4 linked regions of the Homo sapiens genome follow. The protein of the gene in region 1 purifies or fractionates together with the protein of each later gene. This does not show direct contact. Each region holds a gene or a part of one and is shown in the gene's direction. Other genes may lie near its edges. The genes, in order: GMCL1, KLK10, PLBD1 and ECM1.

Region 1 (7,020 bases):
AAAACAGATATCAAGTAAACAGCATATAGTTGAGTCTTGCTTCTTTTGTCCAACAGGACAATCTAACCTTTCAATTAGTAGTTAGACCACTTATATTTAACGTAATTATTGAAATATATGTCACAGTGCATTTGAAGGAGAGAAATCACACAGCAATTTGAATACAGGAAATTTAATATAAACATTATTAACAAGGCACAGAGAATTAACTACTGAGGACAAAACGCTAAGGTAAAGAGATCCCTAGAAAATACATGTAGTAGTCAGTACTTCTAAGGCTGAGGCAGAATAGCCACAGAAGGAACAAATTTGGAATAGGTGCCCCCACCCCTTTCCCAAGCTAAGATTCAGATGATGTTGAAGGAGGTGTGGCTGTAGCCCACTGGATGGTGGAAAAGTTTGCTCAAGTGTGGTAAGCTGAGGCTGGCAAGTAGGACACTGCCTACTAGGATGCCAACAAAATTATTTGGAGGCCTTTTGGCCCAGAAGGCTAAAGATATTTACTATCTAGACCTTTACAGAAAAAGTGTACCAACTCCTAGACTACATGAGTGGACTGGAATGGAAAGTTTTTAAGGCAAACCTTTATCGGAAAATGCATATCAGAATTTAGTGTCTGTATATTACTGGAAGATGCTTGGATTATTCAGCCCAATACGGATGCAGGGTGTAAGAAAATACTAAGACGGGCCAGGCGTGGTGGCTCACGCCTGTAATCCCAGCACTTTGGGAAGCCAAGGCAAGCAGATCACTTTAGGCCAGGAGTTTGAGACCAGCCTGACCAACACAGTGAAACCCCGCCTCTACCAAAAAATACAAAAATTAGCCAGGCTTGGTGGTGCACGCCTGTATTCCTAGCTACTTGGGAGGCTGAGGCAGGAGAATTACCTGAACTCAGGAGGCGGAGGTTGTAGTGAGCCAAGATTGCGCCACTGCGCTCCAGCCTGAGCAACAGAGTAAGACCCTGTCTCAAAAACTAAACAAATAAAAATTTAAAAGAGAAAGTATTAAGATGTTGAATTTTGTGTGTTGGCCCTAGTATATACTTCCTGAGGTTGTCTGGTGTGCTCTCCCACATCAACAGACCACTTTATGAGAAGTTTTAGCTTTTAGGCCCAACTTCCACCTCATACCTTTGTCAACTGCATGTTCTACTTTTACATTTACGAGACTGTTAAAACCCACACTGTTCTACAACCAGATCTTGAGTGTTTTGTCCGTAGCTTGTCTCTAAAAAATTGAAACGACATTACATAGTTATAACTAAGTAAATATTGTTTCAGAAGAGTTAAGTAGTATGCTAGGATTATAAATCATACTTGATGGGTCCAGTGTCACAACTGCTTGTCTGTTCAAAGGGAGAAATTTTTCTAACCTCACAGTCATATGGAATCTTTTCTTGTATTCCATCAAGTGCTTAAAGTCAGGCCCTGCTTTTGTTTTTATCTTATTTGGACAGTGCCTTTTTTTGTATTGCTTTTTTATTGTCCTAGAGTTTATAATGGCCTTTCCCCCACTCTTGTCAAAATAACAATATTCCTTCATCATGGCTTCGGGTTTTTCTGAAAAAACACAGAAAAGTCTTTTGAAACACACTTTCATGGAATCCTTCTCTAAAACCTAGACCTCTTCCATCCTCCTGTTCCAATCTGGATTTGTCTACTCTTATGCTGGGACTTACTTTCACCCCATCTCTAGGATTGAATCCACTATTTTGTGTAGCCTGCATTTCTTTCTCGCTTATTTTAGGAACTATTTAATACATCCTCAAGTATTTTCCAAGGAAGGGTGCAAAAGGGGGTAATTTGTGCGTATCTAAATATAAATTTAGTCTCTTTTACTTTATTCATCCTCTGACTGGGTATGGAAATCTAAAGTAACTTTCTTCATATCTTTGATGACGCTGCTTCATTGTCTTCAGGCCTACAGTCTTGATGAAAAATTTGATTCTGGTGTAATTCTCTTTTCAGGTGACCATTTTTGCTCTCTGGAACTTGTGGAACTTTTTCTTTGGTATTTTGGGATTTAATTAGAATGTGCTTAAGTGTGGGTCTTTTAATGGCCTTGGTACTTGTTGGATCCTTATAATCTGGAGACTCATATACTACCTTAGTTTTGGGAAATTTTTTTCCATTAATTTCTTCCATAATTTCCTTTCGCTTCTTATCTTTATTTTTTCTTTCTGGGATGCCTCTTAACTGGATTTTGGATTTCTTGGATTATGCCTGTCTCTTCTTTTTTCCTTTCTTTGTCTTTTTGCTTTATGTTCTGGGAAATTTCCTTTAACTTTTTCATCACTATCATTAGGTTGTTTGGCCCTAACTATGAGGTATTTCTTTTGGACCAGGGGTGAAAATTACTAAAATATGAAATGTGCTGTGATCCATGAAAGCTTGGGAACCTCTGCTCTACAAAGCATGCCCCACCTATAACCAACTTCGTAGTCTTCTTACTCAAAGAAGAGGTACCTTGGAAATAGATCTATTTACTCAATTAAAACACCATACATCAGTTATTCATTCTTAAATATAAGTGGACAAGCAAGGAAGGATCACCCAACATGAGGAAGAAAAACAAACAAACTATTCTTTGGTTTATTTGTTTTTTTAAATTTCAGTAATCATGTCTTTAGTCTCTAAAAGCTCTTTCTTGTTCTGAGTGATCCTTTATCATAGCAGTCTATGGGGTAAATATAATAATCTCAGATCTCTAGGTATACTGGTGAGAGGGTGTTTTTTTCCTCTCTTTTCCCTGAATTATATGTTTCCAGGGGTGGAGGGAGTCTCTCTGTCTCTCTGATATGCTCTTATTCTTCCTCATGGTGGGTGATCCTTCCTTGCTTGTCCACTTATATTTAAGAAGGAGTAACTGGTGTATGGTGTTTTAATTGAGGAAATAGATCTATTTCCAATGTACCTCTTCTTTGAGTAAGAAGACTACGAAGTTGGTTATAGGTGGGGCATGCTTTGTAGAGCAGAGGTTCCCAAGCTTTCATGGATCACAGCACATTTCATATTTTAGTAATTTTCACCCCTGGTCCAAAAGAAATACCTCATAGTTAGGGCCAAACAACCTAATGATAGCAGATTGCATGGTATCTGAAAGATGTTACTGTGTTTCCTTCGAATTTAAAATACTCCACATGCCTCTCTGAGTTGGCTGTGGTGCTCTAAGTTCAGATGGTATCCTGAACTGGTGAATTTCACACACGGTTTGGGAACCATGACTTAGGGTGAATGGATTGGGAGTGAACAGGCCACAGATTCTTTAAATTTCAGAATGAGGATTGCTTTGTCTGGGCACCAGCAGCTACACTACAGCCTTAGATCTTCCATTAGCTTTGTGCTATTTCTAGAAAAACCTTGGAATCTTTTTGCCTCAGTATCTGTACTCTCCTTATCTATACTCTGTGTTCATAGAGTGGAGAAGGCACTAGTTTCCCCATTTTCTGCCCCTCTTCTTACTTCTGCCTTTGTTTCCCTGAGACCTCATCCTTCTTTTCTCCCAAGGGTTCTGATGGGCAGATAAGCTTAGCCTCCATCCTAGTCCTCCATAATGTATTTTTTGGCTGTGGCTGTCACTGTTCTTTTTCATTTGAATTTGTTTTCTAACTTTCAGATCTGTATAAATCTCTCATCAAGTGATGAGCCTACCCTCACCTTTTCCTGGTGTGGACTTATTCCTTTTTTGTACTCTTAATCTTTAATGTAATTTGGGGAGGGATGGGAAGCCAACATGTGTACATTCTGCCGTCAGGAACTGGAAACTACATTGTCTCTTGATTTCGCATCATAACGAGTGAAGTGGATACTATTAATGTCCTCTTTTTACAGCTGTGATAACTGAGCAGCTGGGACTCAAACCCAAGTCTGTTACCACTAAGACATGTGCTGTTTTTATTGTCGGCTAGGAAGAGGTGTTAAGTACACAGGTGTTAAATTCGCCAATTCAGGATGTCATCTGAAACAATTACTTCATTTTTAAAAAGAGATTGAAGGTTTTATGTGCTAGGAAAGCTTTCAGAATTGGTCAGGAATTTAAGATATTGATCAGCCTCTGCCTAAGGCCTTTTCTTAGTTACTGGATCATTTTGAGCAATGATTTTCAAACTTTATTTTTTTAGTCAAGTCTTCCTTTAAATTAAATCTGTGCAGAAATCCAGTATGTTTACAGATAGAATAGGTGATGCTGCTCTGGTTGAAGTTAGATGGGATGCTCACAGTTCACTCCTTAGCTCTCCTTGGTGGCCCCTAAGACTTCTCCTTTGAGCAGTTTTAAAAACCTTTCATCTAAAATAAATAAATAAATAATTTTAAAAAACAAATAGGAAAAGAAAAGAAAACCTTTGATCTAAGGTTGCAAACCGTTTGTCCAGTGGCTGGAAAACATTTTAAGTAGTTTAAGAATAGGTTGGTACCAAAATAAGATTAAATGTAAATTATTTTAAAATTACTTGGGTAGGTGAAATGTTTACTCTTGTTCTCCATTTCCTACTTGCAGATTATTGCGCTATTTGAGCTCCTTCATAGTGCTGGTTTCTAAATAAGGAAATAAGCAAAAAATCAACATGCTAACTTCTTAATCTATTGAATGGGTAATTAAATTAGTCCAAAATTGCTAAAACATGTGTAGTGAAAAGTCTGCCTCCCATGCTGCCCCCCTTTCTCCACTATCTCTCCCGTGCATAGAGGACCCCAGAGATAACCACTATTATTAGTTTCTTATGTACTCTTCTAGACACAAGAAAATTTGAATATATACTATCTCCCTATCCTTTTACACAATAGGTAAGTTGACTCTATTTAATAGAAATTGAATAAAAGGAGTATTTAGAAATATATGCAAAATCAGTAAAACATTCAGTTTTATATAAATATGTGACTTTTTCATTTCTTTTAACAGGAAAAAATTAAAGAGTACATCTAAATATATTTATCAAACATTATTTTTGAATGGTGAAAACAGTGACATTAAGATTTGTGCTCTAGGAGAAGAATGGAGCTTACACAAAATATATTTATGTCAAGTAAGTATTTTTTCTATTTGAGTAACAGGGTAGTCACTGAAACTCTTAAGTCATGTTCTTCCTCATTGCACTTCACAGTAATCTTTTGCATGAACACCATAGTGGTTAAATCCTCTCATTTGATCAGTCTGTAAGAAAAATGGCAAACATTGTTAGTGAAAACTAAGTTTGGTCTAGAAAGAGATTTTGATATTTCAGTATCAGACTAGCCTAATACTACGTATTTGTCATTACTTCATAAAATGCTTTTTTCGGTGCCTTCTGTTGATAAAAGGGGAAAAGTTGGGGAAAAAATATTTAACATTAAAGTTAAGATTGTAGTGTTTATTTTGCTTATGGTTATTTAAATTGGATAAACTCATCTGAAATGTTGCTTTGTAGTTCACATTGAGTGTGAATAGAAAGTTCTCTCCTGAAAAATGCAGGTAAAGACAACACCAAAAAGTATATAGACTAAGTAGATTTCTGTACTGAAAATATTACTACCTGCCACCCCACTTTAAAAATTCAGAACTTTCATAGCTGACGTGGTGTTGGGCACCTGTAATCCCAGCTACTCAGGAGGCTGAGGCAGGAGAATTGCTTGAACCTGGGAGATGGAGGTTGCAGTGAGCTGAGATCGTACCACTGCATTCCAGCCTGGGCAACAGAGCGAGACTCTGTCTCAAAAAAAAAAAAAAAAAAAAAAAAAAAATCGGAGCTTTCAAAATAGAATACAATGTTGCTCTAATGGCCCAAATATTTTATTCATTTTCTTTCATCAAATCTATAAGCTAGGTATTGTTTGAGGCACTAGAAATAAAACAACAGTTTTTATCCTTTGGAACTTACATTTTTCCTCTTTACCATTTGAGAATAATTACTGGTAAGACAGCATAGTATAAAATTTTTCAGTAAAAGTATTTGAAAATGAATTGCCTTCTCTAACATTTTAATCATGTTTTAAAATGTGTTTTTGAAACAAATTTATTTTGGCTTGAAGTATGTTGCCCAGATACTATATCAGAATATTGCTTTTAACTTCAGGGTATGATTCATGTTGTTTCTTTTTAATATCTGAAAGCAGTTTTGTGAACTTGAGGGTAAGAATACCTCTGTTAAAACTTTACCCCTCGTGGAAGATGTATTATAATTCAAGCCACATGCTAAAATATAAGCCCCCTGAGGACAGAAACAATATCGATTTTGTTTATTGCTATATTCACAGTGCCTTCTACATACTAAGTACTCAGTAACATTTTTAAATAAATTAGTTAATATTTGATCCATTTCAAAGTAATTCTAATTATGAGGAGTGCTATCTGGCAGATACCTAAAGACTTCATTCTGTACCTTTCCAAGAATTCAGGTCCATTCTGGACATTTCTCATTAAACTAAATTTTGGATTTTCCCTGGTTTCTTTGGCGATCATCCTGTTTTTGCTGACTTGGGACTGGTTTGGTCCTTTATAGCCATTCAGGTGTACAGTAAAGATTCAACAGTTTGAGTAAAAAGCTAACCAGGTTCAAATAATATACATGAATTCAATTTAGATAGTAATATAAGAATTTTAGTTTTTTGTCAAAAATAGTACTAAACCAAAAGTATATTTTGATACACCTAATAGTGTCCTTATCTTAATTTCTTTTCTCCTGTGGACATATTTGGCAGTTCTTTTTCTGTTGAAGTAATAGAATGGATGAGTTTAGTTAATGGATAGAATAGTTGCTTAGAATTAGAAATGGGCAAATAATTTGGAAGACACAGAAAGTACTTGATAATCGTTGACTTTTTTTTTTGTTTAAGTCTGGCTACTTTTCTAGTATGTTCAGTGGTTCTTGGAAAGAATCCAGCATGAATATTATTGAACTGGAGATTCCTGACCAGAACATTGATGTAGAAGGTAACTACCACAATAATTACTATTATGCAACAATCGTAAAAACATAATCTTATTCTTCTGGTAGAAGATAAATAATTCCTTCCAGCCTTGTAGTCTAGAAAACTCCTTTTA
Region 2 (7,679 bases), on another chromosome or scaffold:
ACTCACCTCTCCCACCCATGTCTCCCCCGACCTTTCCTCCTCCAACTACTGTCTCTCCCACCTCAGCCGCTACATAGTTCACCTGGGGCAGCACAACCTCCAGAAGGAGGAGGGCTGTGAGCAGACCCGGACAGCCACTGAGTCCTTCCCCCACCCCGGCTTCAACAACAGCCTCCCCAACAAAGACCACCGCAATGACATCATGCTGGTGAAGATGGCATCGCCAGTCTCCATCACCTGGGCTGTGCGACCCCTCACCCTCTCCTCACGCTGTGTCACTGCTGGCACCAGCTGCCTCATTTCCGGCTGGGGCAGCACGTCCAGCCCCCAGTGTAGGAGCACCAGAGGGGAACCTGGCAGGGGGTGGTGAGGAGGGAGTGGTCAGGATTGTGGAAGGGTTCAGGGCATCAGAGATGCGGTTCACAGTGACGATGTGGGATAAGTTGAGAGGATGTGTGGAAAACGTCAGGATAGGGGGGTGGGGACAAAAGTTGGGGCCTTGGAGTCAGACGGACGGGATATGCAATCATACATCCATAACCTCCTGGTTGTAAGACCTTAGGCAAGCAGCTTCACCTCTCTGAATCTTGATTTTCTTCTCTATAAAATGAGAATGATTATACCCACCTGTCAGGATTGGATTAGAGATAATGTATATCAAGCAACTGACATAAATCATTTATTGGATAGCAGGCTGGGCACCGTGGCTCACGCCTGTAATCCCAGCACTTTGGGAGGCCGAGGTGGGAAGATCACCTGAGGTCAGGACTTTGATACCAGCCTGGCCAACGTGGTGAAATCCCATCTCTACTAAAAATGTGAAAATTAGTTGGGCGTGGTTGTGTGCGCCTGTAATCCCAGCTACTCGGGAGGTTGAGGCAGGAGAATCGCTTAAACTTGGGAGACGGAGGTTGCAGTGAGCCAAGATCACGCCACTGCACTCCAGCCTGGGCAACAGAGCAAGACTCTGTCTCGAAAAAAAAAAAAAAAAAGCTGGATAGCATTGCTGTTGCTATTGTTACAAGAAGAGAGGTGAGTTGGCTGCGTCTAAGGACAGGGATTCCCCCAGGGGCGGGATCACAGCAAGCACTGCATTAGGGGAGGTGGCAGGGGGCTCATTCCCACAGCCCCTCACGCTGTTTCCACAGTACGCCTGCCTCACACCTTGCGATGCGCCAACATCACCATCATTGAGCACCAGAAGTGTGAGAACGCCTACCCCGGCAACATCACAGACACCATGGTGTGTGCCAGCGTGCAGGAAGGGGGCAAGGACTCCTGCCAGGTCAGTGTGGTCTCCAACCACAGCCCCATCCCCATCCCCAGCTTCAATGACATCTTTACCGACATCCACAATTTCATCCCCAACCTCAACCCGCCGACCCCTGCAACTCCCAATCCATCTCTTCCCCTGTTCCCGTTTCTGACCTCAGCACAAACTTCAGCTCCATCCCCGTTTCCACACCATTTCCAGCTCCAACCATCCCCAAACTCGTTTTTGAGCCTAACCCCATCCTTTATCCCACCCATAATCCCAGCTTTATCGCTAAACCTATCACCTTTCCCAGTGCCTACCCATCCTGTCTCGGCCCCACTCCTAAGCACCGTCCCCACCTCCTCCCTGGCTAACACCATGCTCAACGCTTTCTCTGACCGACATTCTCTCTCCCCGTGCCCAGGGTGACTCCGGGGGCCCTCTGGTCTGTAACCAGTCTCTTCAAGGCATTATCTCCTGGGGCCAGGATCCGTGTGCGATCACCCGAAAGCCTGGTGTCTACACGAAAGTCTGCAAATATGTGGACTGGATCCAGGAGACGATGAAGAACAATTAGACTGGACCCACCCACCACAGCCCATCACCCTCCATTTCCACTTGGTGTTTGGTTCCTGTTCACTCTGTTAATAAGAAACCCTAAGCCAAGACCCTCTACGAACATTCTTTGGGCCTCCTGGACTACAGGAGATGCTGTCACTTAATAATCAACCTGGGGTTCGAAATCAGTGAGACCTGGATTCAAATTCTGCCTTGAAATATTGTGACTCTGGGAATGACAACACCTGGTTTGTTCTCTGTTGTATCCCCAGCCCCAAAGACAGCTCCTGGCCATATATCAAGGTTTCAATAAATATTTGCTAAATGAGTGAATCTACTGAGTGCTTACTATGTGCTAGACCCTGATCCAATGGCTTTTATTTTATTTTATTTTTTGACAGAGTCTCGCTCTGTCACCCAGGCTGGAGTACAGTGGTGCTATCTCTGCTCACTGCAACCTCCACCTCCTGGGTTCAAGCAATTCTCCTGCCTCAGCCTCCTGAATAGCTGGGATTACAGGTGCCTACCACCACATCCGGCTAATTTTTGTATTTTTTAGTAGAGATGGGGCTTCACCATGTTGGCCAGGCTGGTCTCGAACTCCTGACCTCAGATGATCTGCCCTCCTTGGCCTCCCAAACTCCTGGGATTACAGACGTGAGCCACCGCGCCCGCCCGGCTTTCATTTATTAATTAAAAGAAATTAAATTAATTAATCTATTTAGGAGACAGTCTTGCTCTGTTGCCCAGGCTGGAGTGCAGTAACAATCACAGCTCACGGCAATCTCAATTTCCTGGGGTCAAGTGATTGTCCTCCCTCAGCCTCCAGAGTAGCTGGGACTACAGGCACATGCCACGAAGCCCAGCTAATTTTTGTATTTTTCGTAGAGACAGAGGTCTCAGTATGTTGCCCCGGCTAGTCTCAAACTCCTGGGCTCAAGCAGTCTGTCCTCCTCAGCCTCCAAAAGTGGTGAGATTACAGGCATGAGTCGCTGTGCCTGGCCTCCAAGCACTTTCAAATGTATCAACTTAATCCTCACAAAACCCTGTGAGGTCGGTACTGTTTTCATACCTATTTTATAGTTGAAGAAACAGACACAGAGAAGCAAAGTCACTTGCTCACAGTCACGTGGCTAGGAGAGCAAGGATCTGAAGCAAGGCGATCTCTTAATTACCAAGTGATGTTCCTGGAGTAAGGCTCTGTTTGTTTCCTTTCCTGTAAAATGCTGCATGCAAAAGTATAACACAGTAAGTAAAGAAGTCAGTTAGCCTGCACATACTAAGACCTAACCAAAGGAGCTTATTGTTTTTCTCCAACTTCCATGATAGGTAATTAGATAGTGGAGACCTCTGCTGGCCAATATGGTAGCCACTAACCGCAGCTGGCTCTTCCAATTAAAATTACATAAAGCCAGAAATGTAACTCCTCTGTCTCACTTGTTATATCTCCAAGGCTGGATAGCCACATGTGACTGGTGGTGGCTGGATTAGCTAGTGCATATAAAACATCACTGCAGAAAGTTCAGCTGAGCAGCACTGAGTTAGATGGCCTCTGAAGAGGATGTCCCACGGAGAGAATCCAGAACTCAGGATCTTTTTTTTTTTTTTTCTTTGCGACAGAGTCTTGCTCTGTCACCCAGGCTGGAGTGCAGTGGCGTGATCTCGGCTCACTGCAACTTCTGCCTCCCAGGTTCAAGCAATTCTCCTGCCTCAGCCTCCCTAGTAGCTGGGACTACAGGCCTGTGCCAACATCCCCAGCTAATTTTTGTGTCTTTTTAGTAGAGATGGGGTTTCACTATGTTGGCCAGGCTGGTCTCGAACTCCTGACCTCGTGATCCGCCCCCCCTTGGCCTCCCAAAGTGCTGGGATTACAGGCGTGAGCCACCGCGCCCGGCCAGCTCAGGATCTTTTGGGATGGTCTGTTCACCTCGCAGAAGTGGCTGGCATGAGCAATAGGAGCCCAGAGTGGAACCAGGGCCTTCTGGTTGTCAAGTGGACTTGCTGTGTGACCTCCTGTGAGTCTCTGCCCTCTCTGAGCCTCTCACTCCTCACCTGAGATGAGGGAGTTGGCTGAGGTGATGCCGATGCCCCTCACAGCTTTGACCTCCTATGATTCAGGGGCCTGTGTGTCACCTGGTGGCACACAGATGGCAGGGAGGGTGTGAGATGGCCACACATGGGTATGAGGCAGAGCCACAGCCCCCCCCAACACGCACATGGGCTAGTCACTGGGACACACACAGAGCTCACTCACGGCCACAGAGTGGGCGTGGGTTTCCCTTTTTCCTTGTTTCTGTTTCTCTTAGCCTCGGCGCCTCCCTCCCTCCCTCTCTCTCTCTCTCTCTCTCTCTCTCTCTCTCTCTCTGGCTCTTTTAGCCTTGGTTTGTTACAATCTCCCTTTTCAAGCCAGCCTCTGTCCCTCCTACTCAACCTGCTTTATCTCTAGGCCTTCCTCCTTCCTCTTCCACAGTCTGGCTTCTCACATTGTCACTCTAGGTATGCACTTCCCATTGATTTCCTCTTGCTCAGTGGCCTCTCATCCTGCCACCCCTAGCCTTGCTGGGGACGTGAACCCTCTCCCCGCGCCTGGGAAGCCTTCTTGGCACCGGGACCCGGAGAATCCCCACGGAAGCCAGTTCCAAAAGGGATGAAAAGGGGGCGTTTCGGGCACTGGGAGAAGCCTGTATTCCAGGGCCCCTCCCAGAGCAGGAATCTGGGACCCAGGAGTGCCAGCCTCACCCACGGTACAATTAGACAGAGGGAAAGGGAGGGAGCCCGGGGGTGGGGGTAGGGGAGGGTGGAGAAGCTTCCGGACTCCTTGGGGTTAAAAGGGAAGGTCCCGCCAGGGGTCCCTGGGCAGAGGATACCAGCGGCAGACCACAGGCAGGGCAGAGGCACGTCTGGGTCCCCTCCCTCCTTCCTATCGGCGACTCCCAGGTGAAGCTACCTGCACCCCACCCGGGTTGGGGTGGATTGCGAGAGGATGGGTGGGGACCCCCGGGCCACAGGCAGGAGCCGGCTTAGAGCCTCGGTTTCTCCACCTGCGGGACGCGGAAGTCCCCCCGCTGTGAGGTTGAGAAAGAGGCTCCCACTGGCTCCGAGCCTCGGATCCCCACCCCGCGCGTGAAGGAGGGGGAAACCTCGGGCGCGGCGTGGCTGCAGCCAGGGTAGCTGGGGCGCGGAGAGCGCTCCACTCGGGCACAGGGAGGACGGGAAGATGCCGCGAGGGGCGTCATTAGGGTAATTGTGCCCATTACCGCTGTTCCAGCCCGAATCTCCCGTCTGCCAGCCCCTGGGGTTATCGGCTGCAGGTCAAAAGGGTGCTTGCGGGCTGGGGTGGCCCAGGCTGGGCGGATGAGCGCGGCGAGGTGGGGGTCTCTAACGGAGCATCTGTTTTAACCCGCCCCTGCACACACCCCAGCAGATCCTGGCCATGAGAGCTCCGCACCTCCACCTCTCCGCCGCCTCTGGCGCCCGGGCTCTGGCGAAGCTGCTGCCGCTGCTGATGGCGCAACTCTGGGGTAAGGTCGGGGGCAGGGGGCGGGGAGAGGCGCCGGTGGGAGGCACGGGCGGGAGGAGAATGTGTTCCCGTCACCAAGCCCCGCGCACCTCTCCTCCCCCGAGACCCCAGCACCCACCCAGCGCTCCGGAGCACGGCCCGCCCCCAAGTCAGCTGGGCCCTTCTTCTGGCTCGGCCCCTGGGTGACCCGCCCCACTCAGGCCCTGTCCGATTTCTGCCACCCGGATCCTCGCTCTTCCGTGGACTCTTCGCCGCGTTCTTTCTCCTCCTCTTACGCCGCCCCATCCCGGCCCCGCTCCATTTTACACTACCGTGTTTTGTTTTGTTTGTTTGTTTGTTTGAGACGGAGTCTCGCTCTGTCGCCCAGGCTGGAGTGCAGTGACGCGATCTCGGCTCACTGCAAGCTCCGCCTCCCGGGTTCACACCATTCTCCTGCCTCAGCCTCCCGAGTAGCTGGGACTACAGGCGCCCGCCACCAAGCCCGGCTAGTTTTTTGTATTTTTAGTAGAGATGGGATTTCACCGTGGTCTCGATCTCCTGGCCTCGTGATCCGCCTGCCTCGGCCTCCCAAAGTGCTGGGATTACAAGCGTGAGCCACCGCTCCCGGCCACACCACCGTGTTTTATCCTGAGTCTTGCCTTACCGCTTTTTGCCCTCTCCCCTCACTTTTTTTCTTCCTCTTTCCCTTTCTCTCTCTTTTTTCTTTTTCTTTCTTTCTTTTCTTTCTTTCGTTCTTCTTTTCCTTCCTTCCTTTCCTTCCTTCCTTTCGTTTGTTTCTTCTTTCTTGTTTTACTTTCTCTCTTATTTTTTCTTCTTTCTTTCTTGTTTTTTTCTTTCTCTCTCTTTTTCTTTCCTTCTTTTTTTTTTTTTTTTTTTTTTGAGACAGGGCAGTGCTCTGTCTCCGTGGCTGGAGTACAGTGGCCCAATCAGAGCTCACTGCAGCCTCGACCTCCTGGGCTCAAGCGATACTCAGCCTCCAGAGTAGCTGGTACCACAGGCATGCACCACCACATCCGGCTTTTTTTTTTTTTTTTTTTTTTTTTGAGACAGGGTCTCACTCTGTCGCCCAGACTGGAGTGCAGTGGCCCAATCTCGGCTCATTGCAACCTCCACCTCCTGGGCTCAAGCGATCCTCCCACCTCAGCCTCCCAGGTAGCTGTGACTACAGGCGCATGCCTCCGCGACTACTTTTTTGTTGTTGTTGTTGTTGTTTGTTTGTTTTTGTAGAGACTGGGTCTTGCTGTGTTGCCCGGGCTGGTCTTGAATTCCCGAGCTCAAGCGGTCCAACCGCCTCGGCTTCCCAAAGTGCTGGGATTACAGGCGTAAACCACTGCGCCCCACCCCTCTCCTGGTTTTCAATCCCGTTTTGTTATTCACACCCCTTCCTCTCCCCGATCCCCGAGTTCTATCCCCGCACCCTTACCTCCCCGCCGCGTTCAATCCCCGCCCCTCTATCGACCAGCGACGTTCTAGCCAGCTCTCCAGGCGCGCTGCGTTCAGTCCCTGCCCTCCAGACCCACCCTATTCTGTCTCATTACTCCACGCTACCCTATCCCAGCTTCCTTCCACTTTCACGCGCTTCTTCTCCTCCCATTCCCTTCGGTGCACGCGAAACCCCCAATATTTCCCTACCACCCTCGCGTTCTGGCTGCGTCCCCCGTCCCCGAACGCAGTCCAGTGCCACAGCCCAGCTCCAACCCCAAACCCAGACCCTGCCCTCCGTGCTTTGATTCCGTCCCCTTTCTTTCTCCAGCCGCAGAGGCGGCGCTGCTCCCCCAAAACGACACGCGCTTGGACCCCGAAGCCTATGGCTCCCCGTGCGCGCGCGGCTCGCAGCCCTGGCAGGTCTCGCTCTTCAACGGCCTCTCGTTCCACTGCGCGGGTGTCCTGGTGGACCAGAGTTGGGTGCTGACGGCCGCGCACTGCGGAAACAAGTAGGAGGAGATCCATCCCCGAGGACGCCACGGGGGGCTGTGGAGGCGGCCTCCAGGGAGGAGCGGGCAGGGCGGGGTCTCTCGGAACTCCCACAGCTGGAGGTGCGGTCCCCGGTGTCCTTCCAGCAGGAGGAGAGACCGGGCTTGCGCTGTGGCCGCCAGGGGGCGGTGTGGTCCTTTTCCGCATTTCTGGGCCCGTCACTCCTCTCCCGCTGATTCTCCTTGAGCTCTAGGAGGAGGTGGTTGCCTGCAACGGATAGAAGCCAGGGTCCGGTGTGGTCAGGAATTTAGAACTAAAGGAAAAGGTTCACTTCGTGAGTCCCCGTTGAAGGAGGAAGGGTTGGGTATTACCACAGAGAAAATGTGGAGTTGGGCTGGGCTCGGTGGCTCACGCCTGTAATCCCAGCACTTT
Region 3 (7,224 bases), on another chromosome or scaffold:
GAGTAAATGTCCCTTATTTAGTACCAAGTCAATACATAAGCCCCCGAAGCTAAGGTCATCCTTAAGGAAAAATGGTAAGGACATAAAGAAGGCAAAGGACACTAAGGATTTGGTCCAAATGAAATTGCGCAACCTTAAATCTGGTATTTAAAAATTTTTACTGGTTGGACTCACACCTGTAATCCCAGCATTTTTGAAGGCCAAGGTGGGAGGATCACTTGAGCCCAGGAATTTGAGACCAGCCTGAGCAACATAGTGAGATCCTGTCTTACAAAAAATTAAAAAAAAAAAAAAATTACCATCAGTGGATGTGTTTGAATGCTAAGTTAATTACACTTTTTTGGAAAAGAAACAAATTTACATTTTGGATATTTCATTCTGGAACTGTAACTGTAAAATTTTCAATCCACCACATACATGTTACAGCAAGGAAAGAAATATAGAGGCCAATAGAGACCACTATCTTTGTTTCTGCAACTGGTCACCTGGCTATAGATAATTATATGTGACTTCTCTTCTCCACCTTTTTTCCATGTTCCCCTTGCTTTGGGCCAGCAACTCAGCTGCTGGGATTCTTTGCCCATTGGGATGAGGAGTCTGAGTCCCCAGTGGTGCTTCCCAGGTGAGATTATGCTCCCAGTCCTTTCATTTTGTTTTGGTTTTGGTTTTTTGAGATGGAATCTCTCTCTGTCATCCAGGCTGGAGTGCAGTGGTGCGATCTCAGCTCACTGCAACCTCTGCCTCCTGGGTTCAACTGATTCTCCTGCATCAGCCTCTCAAGTAGCTGGGATTACAGTCATGAGCCACTATGCCCAGCTAATTTTTGGTATTTTTAGTAGAGACGAGGTTTCACCATGTTGGCCAGGCTAGTCTCGAATTCCTGATCTCAAGTGATCCACCCAACTCGGCCTCCTGAAGTGCTGGGATTACAGGAGTGAGCCACCGCATCCAATGCTCCTACTCCTTTTGATAGTAAGGCAAAATTACCAATACTACAATCCTATTCTTAACCATTCAAACATATTTTTATGTTTTAAGAGGAGCTCAAAAAAGACCAATTGCAATTCAGTAATGCACTTTCAAATTCCAATTCAATAATACTTCCTTATTGTGTCTCCTGGTAGAAACACCTCCACCCTTGGCTCACCAAAAGTTGGCATTCCTGCACCAAAAGTTGGTACAGGAAGAGAATAATGGACGCTGAGTAGCCCCAAACCACACAAGTCCATTATAGAAGTGATGAGAACATTTCGCAGCTGGCATCTTTGGTTCTCCTCATTGCAGCTTTAGTATGTGAATCCAAAAAATCTGAGACAGGTCTCAGTCAATTTAGAAAGTTTATTTTGCCAAAGTTAAGGACACACCAGGGCCACAGCCTCAGGAGGTCCTGACAACATGTGCCTAACGTGGTCGGGGTACAGCTTACTTTTATACATTTTAGGGAGATATGAGACATCAGTCAATACGTGTAAGATGTACATTGGTTCAGTATGGTAAGGCGAGACAACTCAAAGTGGGGTATTCCATGTTAGAAGTAGAAAAGAGACAAAATGTTACATTCTTTTGAATCCTTGATCAGCCTTCCACAGAATACACAACTTAGTCTGGCCCAGGGAGTCTGCATTTTTACATAAACAATACTGCAGAGGAAGCAATCAGATGTGCATTTGTCTCAGGTGAGCCTCAGAGGGATGACTTTTAAGTTCTGTCTTCCCTTTGTCCACAGGGAATTTCCTTGTGGGCAAACTGTGAGGGAGGTATGTAGCTTCTTATCTTTGTAGCTATCTTATTTCAGAATAAAATGAGAGGCAGGTTTGCCTGACATAGTTTCCAGCTTGACTTTTCCCTTGGCTTAGTGATTTTGGGGTCCCAAGATTTATTTTCCTAACTATGTGTGAGTTTTGCAGCTCATTTTCCTCCCAGATATGTAAAACTGGCATAATTTAAAGAAAGCAAGATTTATCATCTAATTCAGTGATTCTCAACTAGGGGGCAATTTTGCCCCCCTACGGGAGCATTTGACAATGTCTGGAGACATTTTCAATGGGGGTGCCACTAGCATCCAGTAGGTAAAGGCCAAGGGGTGTCCAGGACAACCCCCCCACAACAAAGAGTTGTCTGCTCCAAAATTTCAATAGTGCTGATGTGGAGAAGTCCTGATCCAATTAATTTGTTTATATGTATAATTTGCTCCCCACTACTGGAATGCAAGCTCTGCAAGGGCAGGGACTTTGTTTTGTCTACTGCTCTGTGCTTGGAACATGGGAGTCAACGAATATTTGATGACAAATAATAGATGAATGAATGCCTCAAGGTTCACATTAGGCATTTATATGCATCTTACTTCATCAGAACACTTGGCTCCTTGGATCAGAAGGGTTAGTAAGGTGAAGGAGGGTGGTATAGGGCAATATGACTCAAATATTTGGGGTGGCACCACTTCCTTGAACATCCTAATGTGGTTCTCTTCCCATCATAACACAACCAAAATTTTCATTTTTGGTTCATTTTAATTTTCTAACTTGAAGGAAAATGTGCAACTTTTACAATGTCCTCGATGTCTTCATTTTAATTTTTCTTCATTTAAATTTTCTAACGAAGGAAAATGTGCAACTTTTACAATGTCCTCGATGTCTTCGTTTTAATTTTTCTTCATTTTAATTTTCTAACTTGAAGGAAAATGTGCAACTTTTACAATGTCCTCGATGTCTTCATTCATTAAATGCCATTAAACATAATTGTGACTTTAATTTTAATTAAATAAAAATGAGTTGGAGTCTCCCTGTGTGGCACAGGCTTGTCTTGAACTTTTGGGCTCCGGTGATCCTCCCACCTTGGCCTCCCAAAGTGTTGGGATTACAGGCATGAGCCATGGTGCCTGGACCACAAAATTGTGACTTGTGTTTCACAATTTGCACAGAGATTTGATGAACTTTTAGGTTCTTTATCTTTTCTAACAATTACATTTTCCCCGTTATGAAAGGTACTGCTTATTCTCTCTTCTCATCTCTCCTTGACACCTAGGTTAAGCTTAGAAGAAAGGCCAAGAGGAAGAGTGGGGTGCTGAGGTTCCCATCTGAGAGGTGGCTTGTTCCCTCCTTCCCCCTCTCCCACTGCACCTTAAACATAGCTCTAACACAGTAGAATGGCAAGTTCTGTGTACTTGTTTATCTATATGGCTTAGTTCTTTTTTAAAAAAATTATTATTGTTATTATTATTATTTTTTTTTGAGACGAATCTCGCTCTGTCGCCCAGGCTGGAGTAGAGTGGCGCGATCTCGGCTCACTGCAAGCTCCGCCTCCCGGGTTTACGCCATTCTCCTGCGTCAGCCTCCCAAGTAGCTGGACTACAGGCGCCCGCCACCGTGTCCGACTAATTTTTTGTATTTTTAGTAGAGACGGGGTTTCACCGTGTTAGCCAGGATGGCCTCGATATCCTGACCTCGTGATCTGCCCGCCTCGGCCTCCCAAAGTGCTGGGATTACAGGCGTGAGCCACGGCGCCCGGCTGGCTTAGTTCTTTTTGTCTGTGGTGAGGCATGCTCTTAGCTGTCTTTATATCACTGGTATCTGGAGTATAAGATGGGCCCAGCCAATGCTGAGTGAATGAATGAAATGCCTTTTGCCTACTTCACAATGTCACCTAGGGCACCCGGTGCCAACTTCACAATATCACCCAAGGCATAACTTTTGACTACTTCACAATGTCACTTTTAACTGACCCCACACAGAAATGGGGACTCCACAGAAACGTAGGAGTGTGTCTAGTGTCAGCCCCGTCTGAATCACTCTCCTGTGGTGGCTCCAGCCAACGAAGAGGAAGCAAAAAGGATAAAAAATCTGAGCTACAGCGCATGGATTTAGGTTAAACAGCCTGGGAATGAGGGGTACGCTAATCGCTGAGGAAAACGCACCTGTGGAGGCCTCTCCAGAAACAGCAGAGGATCCGAGCTGCGTGTAGGCAGGGCGCGCATGTCACCCTGGCCCGGGCGCCTGGTCCGCTGCTGGAGATAAATGGTCGACCCCGGAGGGAGAGGCTAGTAGGGGTGTTGATGTGAACTGATTCGCCCAAGCCTTGGGCCGCAAAACTGCGAAAGAAAGCGGCAGGCAGCCTCTGCATTTCCCAGAAGTGCAGCTGGGGAACTTTCCCAGACCGGCCCAGGGGTTGCTAGAGGGTCAGACGTAAAGGATCCGCCTTTCCTAGGCGGGGTGGGCCCCAGGCCACCACGTGAAGCGTCCTCGCCCCTCAGAGCCCGGAGCAGGCCGGGCTCAAGAAAGAGGAAAGTTGAGGACGCCCCACCTCGGAGAGGCGGCGCCCCTGAGTAGGCCAGGAGCCTCTCTTGCAACTTCTGCCACCGCGGGCCACCGCGGCCGCCTGATCCCGCAGAGGAAGGTCGCGGCCGTGGAGCGATGACCCGCGGCGGTCCGGGCGGGCGCCCGGGGCTGCCACAGCCGCCACCGCTTCTGCTGCTGCTGCTGCTGCTGCCGCTGTTGTTAGTCACCGCGGAGCCGCCGAAACCTGCAGGTGAGCAGAGCGCGCCCTGGGCGGGGGGCGCCCGGGGAGGCTCCTAGGAGCCTGTTAGCGCCCGTGCCCCGCGTCCGGCCGAGTTGACGTCCAGCGGGCGTCTGGTTCCTGGGTGAACTCAGAGAAACGCGCCTCCGGCCGGCGGTCTCGCTCCAGCCCTGCGGCTGCGCAGCGAGGGCACTTGAGAAGGGCATGGCGAGTGCGTCTGCCAACTTTACAAGTTTTGGCCCGAATTCTTGGCCAACAAATCGGTTCGCTCCTGCGCCGATTCTTGGCCCACAGAGCCTGGGCTGGTCTTAAAAACTCCAGCCAATGGGCATCTAAATATATTTATCCAGATTGTAGGGAGGTATGGTTCCGGCTTGCCATTTGTTTTGTGTTTTAAAAATTTACATTGACTTTGGCTTAAAATCACGATTGCACGATTGTCAGTTTGATACGTGCCTGGCAGTGGGCTTAAGGGCCTTTTGGTTTTGTTGTTGTTGTTGAGACAGAGTCGCTCTCTGTGGGCGACGCTGGAGTGCAATGGTGTGATCTCGGCTCACTGCAACTTCCGCCTCCCGGGTTCAAGCGATTCTCCTCCCTCAGCTTCCCAAGTAGCTGGGATTACAGGCGTCAGCCACCATGCCCAGCTAATTTGTGCATTATTAGTAGAGACGAGGTTTCACCATGTTGGACAGGCTGGTCTCGAACGCCTGACTCGGGCGATCCGCCTGCCTCGGCCTCCCAAAGTGCTGGGATTACAGGCATGAGCCACCGCGCCCGGCAGTTTTTTTTTTTTTTTTTTAATATATAATCCTAAATAGGATTATATTCCCCATTCTGCAGATGAGAAAAGTGAGATTGATCAGAAGTAATTCGCATAAAGATAACACAGCAAATAAGACAGAGTTAGGGGATGCCAGAGGGCATTTTCTTAACTACTTCCCTCTTGGAAAAACAGGTTTTATCTCTACAGGTATTCATGCAAATCTACATCCTTTGCCAAAATTAAATTAAATTAAATTAAAAAGCCTTGGATTTATGATTTCCGTTCCTAAGGAGGTGAAGATTATGAACTGTAACTAAGGGACTTGAAAGAATTCTAAAGTAATAATAAGAGAATTAATTTTGTCTTATTTCATAATCCCCTTTTCTGTGCTGACCTTGTACAAGAGTAGGGTGGGGCTTGGGGGAGGATGCCCCTTCCTAAATATGTGTACTGATTCTTATTACACTACCTTCCATCATCAAGAGCCTTCGTTTTTGAGACTTGCTTAGTTATCACTCTTCAATCTTAAATCTTTCCAGTCTGTGGGATCAGATGTACCCACAGGCTCCTGACTCGTGATTTTCTGTGTTCTTTGCCTAAACTATGGAGGTGGCCTTGGTGTCTACTTCTAGTCTAGGGAGACAGCTCATTCAGAGGTACCTGGGGGAGGCTGGGGAGGGTCCCAAAAGTGGAGGTAGCTTTTGTGTTTGGAATGCTGGCTAAAATCTTTATTCCTTTTCTGTTTTTTTGGACGAGTGAGATTAAGTGTTTTTGTAGGTGGAGGGGGCAGCCTGAGGAGTGAGACAGGCGTTGTTTTTCTGAAGATGGAGCACTATTTATTCAAGAAGGTACCACCTTGTAAGAAACTGCATCTTAAACAGTTCCTCCAACAGGAAGCTGACTCCATGCTTGGAGGTTCTGGAGCCAAGGCAGAAAGTAAGGACATTTCTGAGATGAAGTGATCCTGACAGCACCATGCCCAGCAATCTGGAAAGGATTCTTACTTACCTAGGTGTTAAGGACATCTGGTGATGCCACACTATTTCAGCAGATGAGATCTCTGTTTCCTTTGTCCTACCCACATTAATCTGTTTTCCCTTGAGGCTTTTTGGGTCTTTGTCTTTACCCTTCTACTAGCCTGCGAACAACCAAAGAGTAAAGAACTGGGACTTGCTACCTCTCACTTGTCATGTGTTCTCTGAAGTACCCAGCTCAGTACCCTGAACTTAGTAGGAATTCAGTAAACACTAAAGGGATTGCATGTCCATCCCCTTGGAATGGATTTTATATCCACTCATATGCATCTATCTATCCAAAAACAACTTCTTCAATTTTTAATTTTACTTTTTTTTTTTTTTACTATTATTTCCTATTATTTTTATTTTCCCCCCAGGCTGGGTACAGTGGCGTGATCTCGGCTCACTGCAACCTCCACCTCTTTGGTTCAAGCAATTCTCCTGACTCAGCCTCCCGAGTAGCTGGGATTACAGGCACACACCACCACGCCCAGCTAATTTTTATATTTTTTGTAGAGATGGGATTTCAACAGGTTGGACAGACTAGTCTCGAACTCCTGGCCTCAGGTGATCTGCCCGCCTCAGCCTCCCAAAGTGCAGGGATTACAGGTGTGAGCTACCATGCCCGGACACTTTTAGTTAATTCTTGCATATTCTTCAATTTGTAAAGGTTACTCTATAGTTTTATTATTCCAGAAGTTGACAAATAATTGCACAGTCATTCTAGCCAAATCTTTCAAGCTATGATTTCAGACATATGGTGTTGCGTTTATCTTTCCAGACCAAAAGCCCCATAATTGATTTTAGAAGGTCCTTATATAATTTTTTCTAAGTGGTATGTATAGAGAAGTCAGGTGGTCACTAGAGAAATAAATCATACCTTTATCTGGTTCTGAAAAAGTTTAACATCTTGGAAGTCATTCAGTCTCCATA
Region 4 (7,466 bases), on another chromosome or scaffold:
TGTATATATGTGTGTATATATGTGTGTATATATGTGTATATATATGTGTGTGTATATATACACACACACACACACACATATACACACACATACATATATATATGTTAGCTGGGCGTGGTGGCATGTACCTGTAGTCCCAGCTACTCAGGAGGCTGAGGCAGGAGAGTCGCTTGAACCCGGGAGGCGGAGGCTGCAGTGAGCTGAAATCGTGCCACTGCACTCCTGTCAGGGTGACAGAGTGAGACTCTGTCTCAAAAAAAAAAAAAAAAAAGGAATAATTCTCAGAGCTGGCTGACCAAGAGACAGTAATCAGAGTAGGGTGTCTGATGGACAGTTTCAGAGGTACAGCCATTGGGGGAGATGACAGGATAAAGGGTGTAGCCATAGATGGGTGGTGGTGAAGATCTCTGAGATGAGGAGCTCAAGGAATTGAGAGGCCAGGGTGTGGACATCAGGTAATATTATAACACCATTATTAGATGGAGAGAGCTGCTGAGAACTACTGCCAGAGTGAGTTGAGTAGAGTGAACTGGAGGGGTAGCGTATGATAGAGCTAGGTGACATGATGAAGGTAGTAGCCCGGGATGAGGGTAGGTTAAAGGGTGGGATGGCACAGGTAATGGAGGATAGTGGTTCTGGATAGTGCTTCTGGCTTATCTCGTGCCTTCCCATCTGTTTCCTGTAGATTGACGTGCACCTCCACGATGCCCTGGGCCGGCCACATCAGTGTGGGACAATTCAGCTTGACTTCCAACTGCCCCTGAGATTTGACCTCCAGTATAAGGGGTATAAAACCTTGCCCTATCCTCTTTTCCCTTGACAGTGCATGGAATAAGTCCTTCTGCCTTTGGCCCTAAAAACTAAACCCTCCACACCCTCTCCTGCCAGAGCTGAATATTTCTTAAAAACTGGAAGGTGATCTTGGGTACACAATTCGTGATACTTCCACCATTCCATCCACCCCCCCCTTTTTCCTTTCAAGGCAGGCGGGTGCCCTGGAGCGTCCAGTCCTCATTCACCGAGCAGTGCTCGGTTCTGTGGAAAGACTGTTGGGAGTGCTGGCAGAAAGCTGCGGGGGGAAATGGTGAGACCTCTGACCTGGATTTCTGTTCTGGCCCCAAACCGGATAGTTATGCTCCAGATCCTGTCCCCCTTCATATGCCAGCCTCTTTCCTTCTCAAGTCTGCTCCATACAAGCACACTTCTGGCCAGAGCCAGAGTGACTAATTTGCCATCACCTGTTCTTTCCCTACCAGGCCACTGTGGCTGTCCCCGTTCCAGGTGGTGGTCATCCCTGTGGGGAGTGAGCAAGAGGAATACGCCAAAGAGGTAAGGAGTTGAGGTAAGGGAGGGGGCAGAAGCAGGTCCAGTAGAGAGTCTGGTGCCCTGCAGTGGGCAGGAAGAGGCTGCAGGGGTGGTAGAGGAAGGAGCACAGCCCTCACAGCCACAAGACTGGGCTCGAGTGGCTGCTGTCCTAGATGCTGGAAATCCTGTATCTAAAAAATGTGACTAATGCCTACCTTGTAGAGATGTATGAAAATTAAACAAATTAACAAATGTTGAAAGCCACCAAAAGAGCACTTGGCACAAAACTGGGATTGAGTACACAGTTTTATTTTTCCTTTCTAGAGAGAATTGAGGATATGGATGGTACCAGAGTCAAACAGCTGGTTGGGTAGAGCAGTGGCTAGAAGGCAAAGTCCACGGAATAACTGGGGGGTCATCTCCAGTAGGAGGCAGAAAGATTGTGGGGTTGGGGATGAATGGGGAGGAGGCCTCAATGTGGAGATGAAATGAGGAGAGGTTGCTGGTAAGAAGTGGAGAGCCCCGAGGCAGGGAAAGGAGGAACAGATGGGGGCATTGAGGGAAAAGAGCATCAGACTGTTCTAGCTCCTTAACTTTCCAGTAAATTAACTTCCTGTCACCAAACCTCTGTTGCAGGCACAGCAGAGCCTGCGGGCTGCAGGACTGGTCAGTGACCTGGATGCAGACTCTGGACTGACCCTCAGCCGGAGAATCCGCCGGGCCCAGCTTGCCCACTACAATTTTCAGTTTGGTAAGCTGAACCTCAGAGCCAATGTTCTCCCACCTGCCGTCTGCATTCTTGCTGTTAAGTTTACCAAGTCTGGTAATGCATATTTGGGTTAATTGGGGCTCATTACCTGAGCAGGTAGGAGCCAGGATTCAGGACACCTGACTCATTTGGGCCCTGTGTTCCTTCACATTGCCCTGCCCTCCCCATAACCACTTCTGACACTCAAAATAGTTTTCCTCTTTTTAACTCCACTCTAGCTGTTGGTGTCTGTTAGGTTAATTAACCAAGGGAGCATCAGAGAGAAAGGGACGGGAGGGTTAATACAGCGTTAATTACCCTTGTTTATTTTAGACCTAGATGGAATCAGCCCTAAGGGATGAGGAGAAAGGCCTTAGGGAGAAAATTCTGGCACTGCCATGCTCCCTTTTTCATTTTCCAGGGTTCAGGGCTCTATCTCAAAGGTGAGGAGCAGAAACTCCTCAGCCAGATTACCTGATTCTTGAGTTTTGCACACCCCACTCTCCCTACAAGCACCCAGAGCAAGCTGTGCTGCAATCCCAGGGACTTGTACATGGCCCCTTTCCCTCCCTTACCGCCCAGTCAGCCCCTGCATACATCCTCCTCAGCAGAGGCCCCTCACTCTGTGAATCCAGCCCTAACAGACACCAAGAGCCAGAGTGGGACTGATGAGAGGAAACTGTTCTAAGGGTCAGAGTGGTTGGGGGGAGGCGGGGCAGTGTGAAGGCCACACCACTCCTGCCACCTTCCACTTGCTCTAATACCCCCTTCAGACACGCGCGCGCACACACACACACACACACACACACACACAGTTTCTCTCTGTGGGGTTCTCATTGTTTGTCTTTCTCTGCTTGACTCTAATGTCTCTGACACACACACACACACACACACACACACACACAGTTTCTCTCTGTGGGGTTCTCAGTGTTTGTCTTTCTCTGCTTGACTCTTATGTCTCTGACCCTGGGGCTCTTGACCAGAAGCGATAAGGCCTGCGGGGACTGAAGCACTTCCTTGTCTCCTCAGGATGAGCAGGACTGGTCATTTAGTATTAGCAGACACAGCTGAATACTTCCTTTCTGTGAACCATATCTGGGCTCTGCTCCCACCCTTCCTAAAGATTTAGGTCTCTCAAGTTTCTGCAGAGCAAAAGAAACTGTTCCATGTGGGTGAATTTGCCCTGAGGTTCCCAAACTTCCTCTACCTGCAGTGGTTGGCCAGAAAGAGCAAAGTAAGAGAACAGTGAACATTCGGACTCGAGATAATCGTCGCCTTGGGGAGTGGGACTTGCCTGAGGCTGTGCAGCGACTGGTGGAGCTACAGAACACGAGGGTCCCAAATGCCGAAGAAATTTTCTGAGCCTTTGTACATAGATGAGGCAAAAACCTGCGAGTGCCATCAGCCTCCCTCACATGGGAGACCCCAACCCAGCTGACAATGTGGAGCCCCCAGAACTTCAGAACTGTGTGGAGGCACATGTCTGCTCTCCTGAAAAGAGACTTGGTTTGGGGACCCCACAAAAGGAGGGAAGCTGTAGCTGTTTGGATGTGAGGAGAATGAAACTACAAAAAAAAATAAATTGGGCCAGGCGCAGTGGCTCATGCCTGTAATCCCAGCACTCTGGGAGGCTGAGGCGGACGGATCATGAGGTCAGGAGATCAAGACCACCCTGGCTAACACGGTGAAACCCTGTCTCTACTAAAAATACAAAAAATTAGCCGGGCATGGTGGCACACGCCTGTAATCCCAGCTACTCAGGAGGCTGAGGCAGGAGAATCGCTTGAACCCGGGAGGTAGAGGTTGCAGTGAGCTGAGATTGCGCCACTGCACCCCCCTAGGCGACAGAGCGAGACTCTGTCTCTAAATAAATAAATAAATAAATAAATACAAACTGGAAGCTGCTGGTCATATGTCTTCATCTCTGACTCTGGAGAGGTGGGATAAAAGGATGTTCCACTTTGTCTCCCTCTTTTTTGTCCCAGAGAGTTAGGGAAATTGAAAAGGGACAGTCCAGACCTCACACTGGTAGGGGAGATCCCTTGGATAGGTTTCCTGCTCCCCGCTGTAAACTCCTTTGTGCCCTGTTTCCCCAACCCCAGTTCATGAGTTGGCAGATCCCCTCTCCACAGAAGGCAGCCTGTAGATGGAGAAACTGAGGCACAAACTAGGGGCTCAAACACCTCTTGCTCCTGGATTCTCTGAATCAGTTTCTCTTGAAGGTCATAAGAATGTTCTCCTCTAATCAGTCCCATTCTTCTCAATCCTCTGAGGAGGCTTCAGGGTGACTTTGGGAGGAGTGGCTTCCAGAGGAGGAGCAGCTGGGACTGAGTCATGGCAGGAAGCTGAGGAGGGCGGGAGATCACACCAGACAATTATAAAAGAAGAGCTGGTCCTGAAGCTCACAACCGTAACAGCCACCAGACAAGCTTCAGTGGCCGGCCCTTCACATCCAGACTTGCCTGAGAGGACCCACCTCTGAGTGTCCAGTGGTCAGTTGCCCCAGGATGGGGACCACAGCCAGAGCAGCCTTGGTCTTGACCTATTTGGCTGTTGCTTCTGCTGCCTCTGAGGGAGGTGAGTTGGGGGATCAGCACTTAGGAGGGGGTCTGGGCTTGCATGGCAGGGGTCTGGGTCCAGGCATCCCAGACGGCTCATCACTAGCAGAGTGATTCTCCGTTTGGCTTTCCTTTTCTGAGCAGGCCCAAAGTGGGCCTAGGCCAGTGGAGCCTTTAACCAAGGAGGCAGAGAGCAGGGGCACAGAAGGAGAGGGGTTCCTAGAAACTGCTGCCAAGAAACACAGAATCCCAGTCAAATAGACAACTGAGTGGGGGGTGGGTTCACAGAGTGAGGGTCTCCTGCTGATGAGGATGTAGGGAGGTGGCTGGTGGGAGAGGCAAGGGAGGGAAAAGGGGCCCCCAGGCTGCTCAAAACCGGATTGCTGGCCCAGCAAGCCTCGACTGACTCCCTGTCTGATTAGAGGAGTTGAGGGGTGTCCATCCACAGACCCACCCTCCATCCAGCACAAACACATTCTTTATCTGCTTTGATGCCTGAACAAAACAGGAACCCCTCAATGCTATGGGTGGAAACTAAGAAAAAAAGGAAAAGAAAAGGAAAAAAACCACCCAGGGCACTCCTGCAGGAAGCTGCTGAGGATGTCAGCAAATCTGTCCACTTCTCTGTGAAGCCCCATGCCATCATTCTTCCCAGCTCCTGGTCTTTTGTGTCTGCAGATCACCTACAAGTGACCCTTCCCTGTGCCTGTCCCAGTCCCCCAGGCCCTAAATTGAGACCTAAACTAAGGCGGAGCTGAGACTGGCTGAAGGGGAAGCACTCAACCTTCAGGAAGCCTCCTTAACCAAAGGCCTAAAGATGTTTCAAGGGCCTGGAGTAGGAGGGTGGGTGGAGGAGGTGGATTGGGTAGGCTCCAACCAGCTCAAGGTCCAGACTTTTTCCTCTGAAAGCTAGAGACGCATCCCAGCAGAGACTGGGGAGGACAACCCACAGCCCTGAGGGAAAGACTGGCAGAGGAAATGAGGGCCTCCCTCCCCAATCCCGTATGCCATACTCCCTTTAGGCCCAACCTCTGAGCCAGTAGAGGTGGAGCTATCAGACCGCCACAGGCTTTCTCAGAACCCAGCTGGTCATGTCTAGGTGTGTTGGGGCTGGGAGAGGATTAGGGGACACGGGGCAGGTGAATACAGAGGGGCATCTCGTGTCTTGCTTGTCTGTCCTACACTCTTGATCTCCACAGCCTCCCCATCCCTTGCTGAAGTCCAGGGAAGGCCCTCCCAGTGGCCCCTGACTTGCCCTTCTTCCCTCCAGGCTTCACGGCTACAGGACAGAGGCAGCTGAGGCCAGAGCACTTTCAAGAAGGTAAGAGTTTGGGGGAGCAGCATGGGATTGGGACTCCAGGAGGCACTGTGGGCTCTGATGTCTCCCCTCTTGCTTCTAGTTGGCTACGCAGCTCCCCCCTCCCCACCCCTATCCCGAAGCCTCCCCATGGATCACCCTGACTCCTCTCAGCATGGCCCTCCCTTTGAGGGACAGAGTCAAGGTAAGGTCACCATCCCATGCCCTCCTCAGTGACCCTCCAGGTTTCTAATCTGGCCTATATCCCACTTTTCAGGTGGAAAGGAGGGAAGAGGCCCTCGCCCCCACTCCCAGCCCTGGCTAGGAGAAAGGGTGGGCTGCTCACACATTCCCCCTTCTATAGTGCAGCCCCCTCCCTCTCAGGAGGCCACCCCTCTCCAACAGGAAAAGCTGCTACCTGCCCAACTCCCTGCTGAAAAGGAAGGTGAGCGCTTGCCCACCCTCCCTCACCTCTATCCCACTATGGATCCTGTTGACACCAGGCTGATCCCTGCTCCTTGGTGCCCTCACCCCTATCTTGCAGTGGGTCCCCCTCTCCCTCAGGAAGCTGTCCCCCTCCAAAAAGAGCTGCCCTCTCTCCAGCACCCCAATGAACAGAAGGAAGGTAAGCAGCTCCCTCTCTTCTTTACCCACCTTTACCTCATGGCCTTCCCCCAGAGCATGGGCTTCGGGGCAGACAAGACGGTGGGCTCTGCCACTCACCAGTTGTATAACCTTGGGTAAGTTACATACTTCTCCAAGCCTTTGTTTCTTCATCTGTAAAATTGAGGATATACCTGTTTTAGAAAGTTATGTGATTAGATGTGCAAAAATAGCATCTATTTTCACTTGCTTCTCTGCTGAGTTCTTCTTTGTGCATGTAAACTAGCCAGGCTTTCTCTGCTAGAGATGGCCATCCCAACATGGCTTTTGCTTACTCCTTCTACCCAGTAGACCCACCTCTTCCATATCAGGAGGAGATAATCATCCATTCCATGCCGAGAGAGGGTGAGTGACAGCTTTGGTCTGTCCATCCTCCTGCCTTAGTGCTCAGGACCCTGGGGAGAGGAGCAGGAAGCCCGAGCCTTGAGAAGCAGGAGGAGGTGGGGGCAGGCTGTGAGCTGACACCTTTCACACCTCGCTTCTCTTTTCCTTTCAGTTATTTTAAAAGGAAGAGCCACAAATTGTTCTTTCTCATTTCCACTATATCCTCCCAACCCTTTCTCCTCCACCCCAGATTCTTTCAATCCTCCCAGCTCATCCAGCCTTTGTGGGTTCCTTCACATGTCCCCGCTTCCCACTGTTTTCCCCATTCCAGGAACGCCAGCTCCATTTGGGGACCAGAGCCATCCAGAACCTGAGTCCTGGAATGCAGCCCAGCACTGCCAACAGGACCGGTCCCAAGGGGGCTGGGGCCACCGGCTGGATGGCTTCCCCCCTGGGCGGCCTTCTCCAGACAATCTGAACCAAATCTGCCTTCCTAACCGTCAGCATGTGGTATATGGTCCCTGGAACCTACCACAGTCCAGCTACTCCCACCTCACTCGCCAGGGTGAGA

Evidence for each region.
Region 2: the proteins of GMCL1 (region 1) and KLK10 purify together in Homo sapiens (affinity purification with mass spectrometry; 3 studies listed by BioGRID and IntAct, with this or other methods). This does not show direct contact.
Region 3: the proteins of GMCL1 (region 1) and PLBD1 purify together in Homo sapiens (affinity purification with mass spectrometry; 3 studies listed by BioGRID and IntAct, with this or other methods). This does not show direct contact.
Region 4: the proteins of GMCL1 (region 1) and ECM1 purify together in Homo sapiens (affinity purification with mass spectrometry; 3 studies listed by BioGRID and IntAct, with this or other methods). This does not show direct contact.

Annotation. Positions count from the first base shown.
Region 1 is NC_000002.12:69,832,645-69,839,664, forward strand, and holds part of GMCL1 (germ cell-less protein-like 1), read left to right. Parts: intron 1-4,902; coding exon 4,903-5,026; intron 5,027-6,812; coding exon 6,813-6,909; intron 6,910-7,020. UniProt on the Homo sapiens protein: Possible function in spermatogenesis. Enhances the degradation of MDM2 and increases the amount of p53 probably by modulating the nucleocytoplasmic transport.
Region 2 is NC_000019.10:51,016,698-51,024,376, reverse strand, and holds the start of KLK10 (kallikrein-10 preproprotein), read left to right. Parts: upstream 1-4,667; 5' UTR 4,668-4,750; intron 4,751-5,005; exon of another isoform or gene 5,006-5,124; intron 5,125-5,234; exon of another isoform or gene 5,235-5,237; 5' UTR 5,238-5,246; coding exon 5,247-5,334; intron 5,335-7,086; coding exon 7,087-7,267; intron 7,268-7,679. Other genes in the region: KLK11 (kallikrein-11), read left to right, coding at 1-332, 1,149-1,285, 1,680-1,832. UniProt on the Homo sapiens protein: Has a tumor-suppressor role for NES1 in breast and prostate cancer.
Region 3 is NC_000012.12:14,564,882-14,572,105, reverse strand, and holds the start of PLBD1 (phospholipase B-like 1 precursor), read left to right. Parts: upstream 1-4,222; 5' UTR 4,223-4,409; coding exon 4,410-4,524; intron 4,525-7,224. UniProt on the Homo sapiens protein: In view of the small size of the putative binding pocket, it has been proposed that it may act as an amidase or a peptidase.
Region 4 is NC_000001.11:150,503,650-150,511,115, forward strand, and holds the start of ECM1 (extracellular matrix protein 1 isoform 1 precursor), read left to right. Parts: upstream 1-4,459; 5' UTR 4,460-4,560; coding exon 4,561-4,630; intron 4,631-5,881; coding exon 5,882-5,932; intron 5,933-6,011; coding exon 6,012-6,113; intron 6,114-6,185; coding exon of another isoform or gene 6,186-6,272; coding exon 6,273-6,353; intron 6,354-6,452; coding exon 6,453-6,533; intron 6,534-7,226; coding exon 7,227-7,466. Other genes in the region: TARS2 (threonine--tRNA ligase, mitochondrial), read left to right, coding at 686-786, 983-1,084, 1,257-1,329, 1,942-2,056, 3,267-3,415. UniProt on the Homo sapiens protein: Involved in endochondral bone formation as negative regulator of bone mineralization. Stimulates the proliferation of endothelial cells and promotes angiogenesis. Inhibits MMP9 proteolytic activity.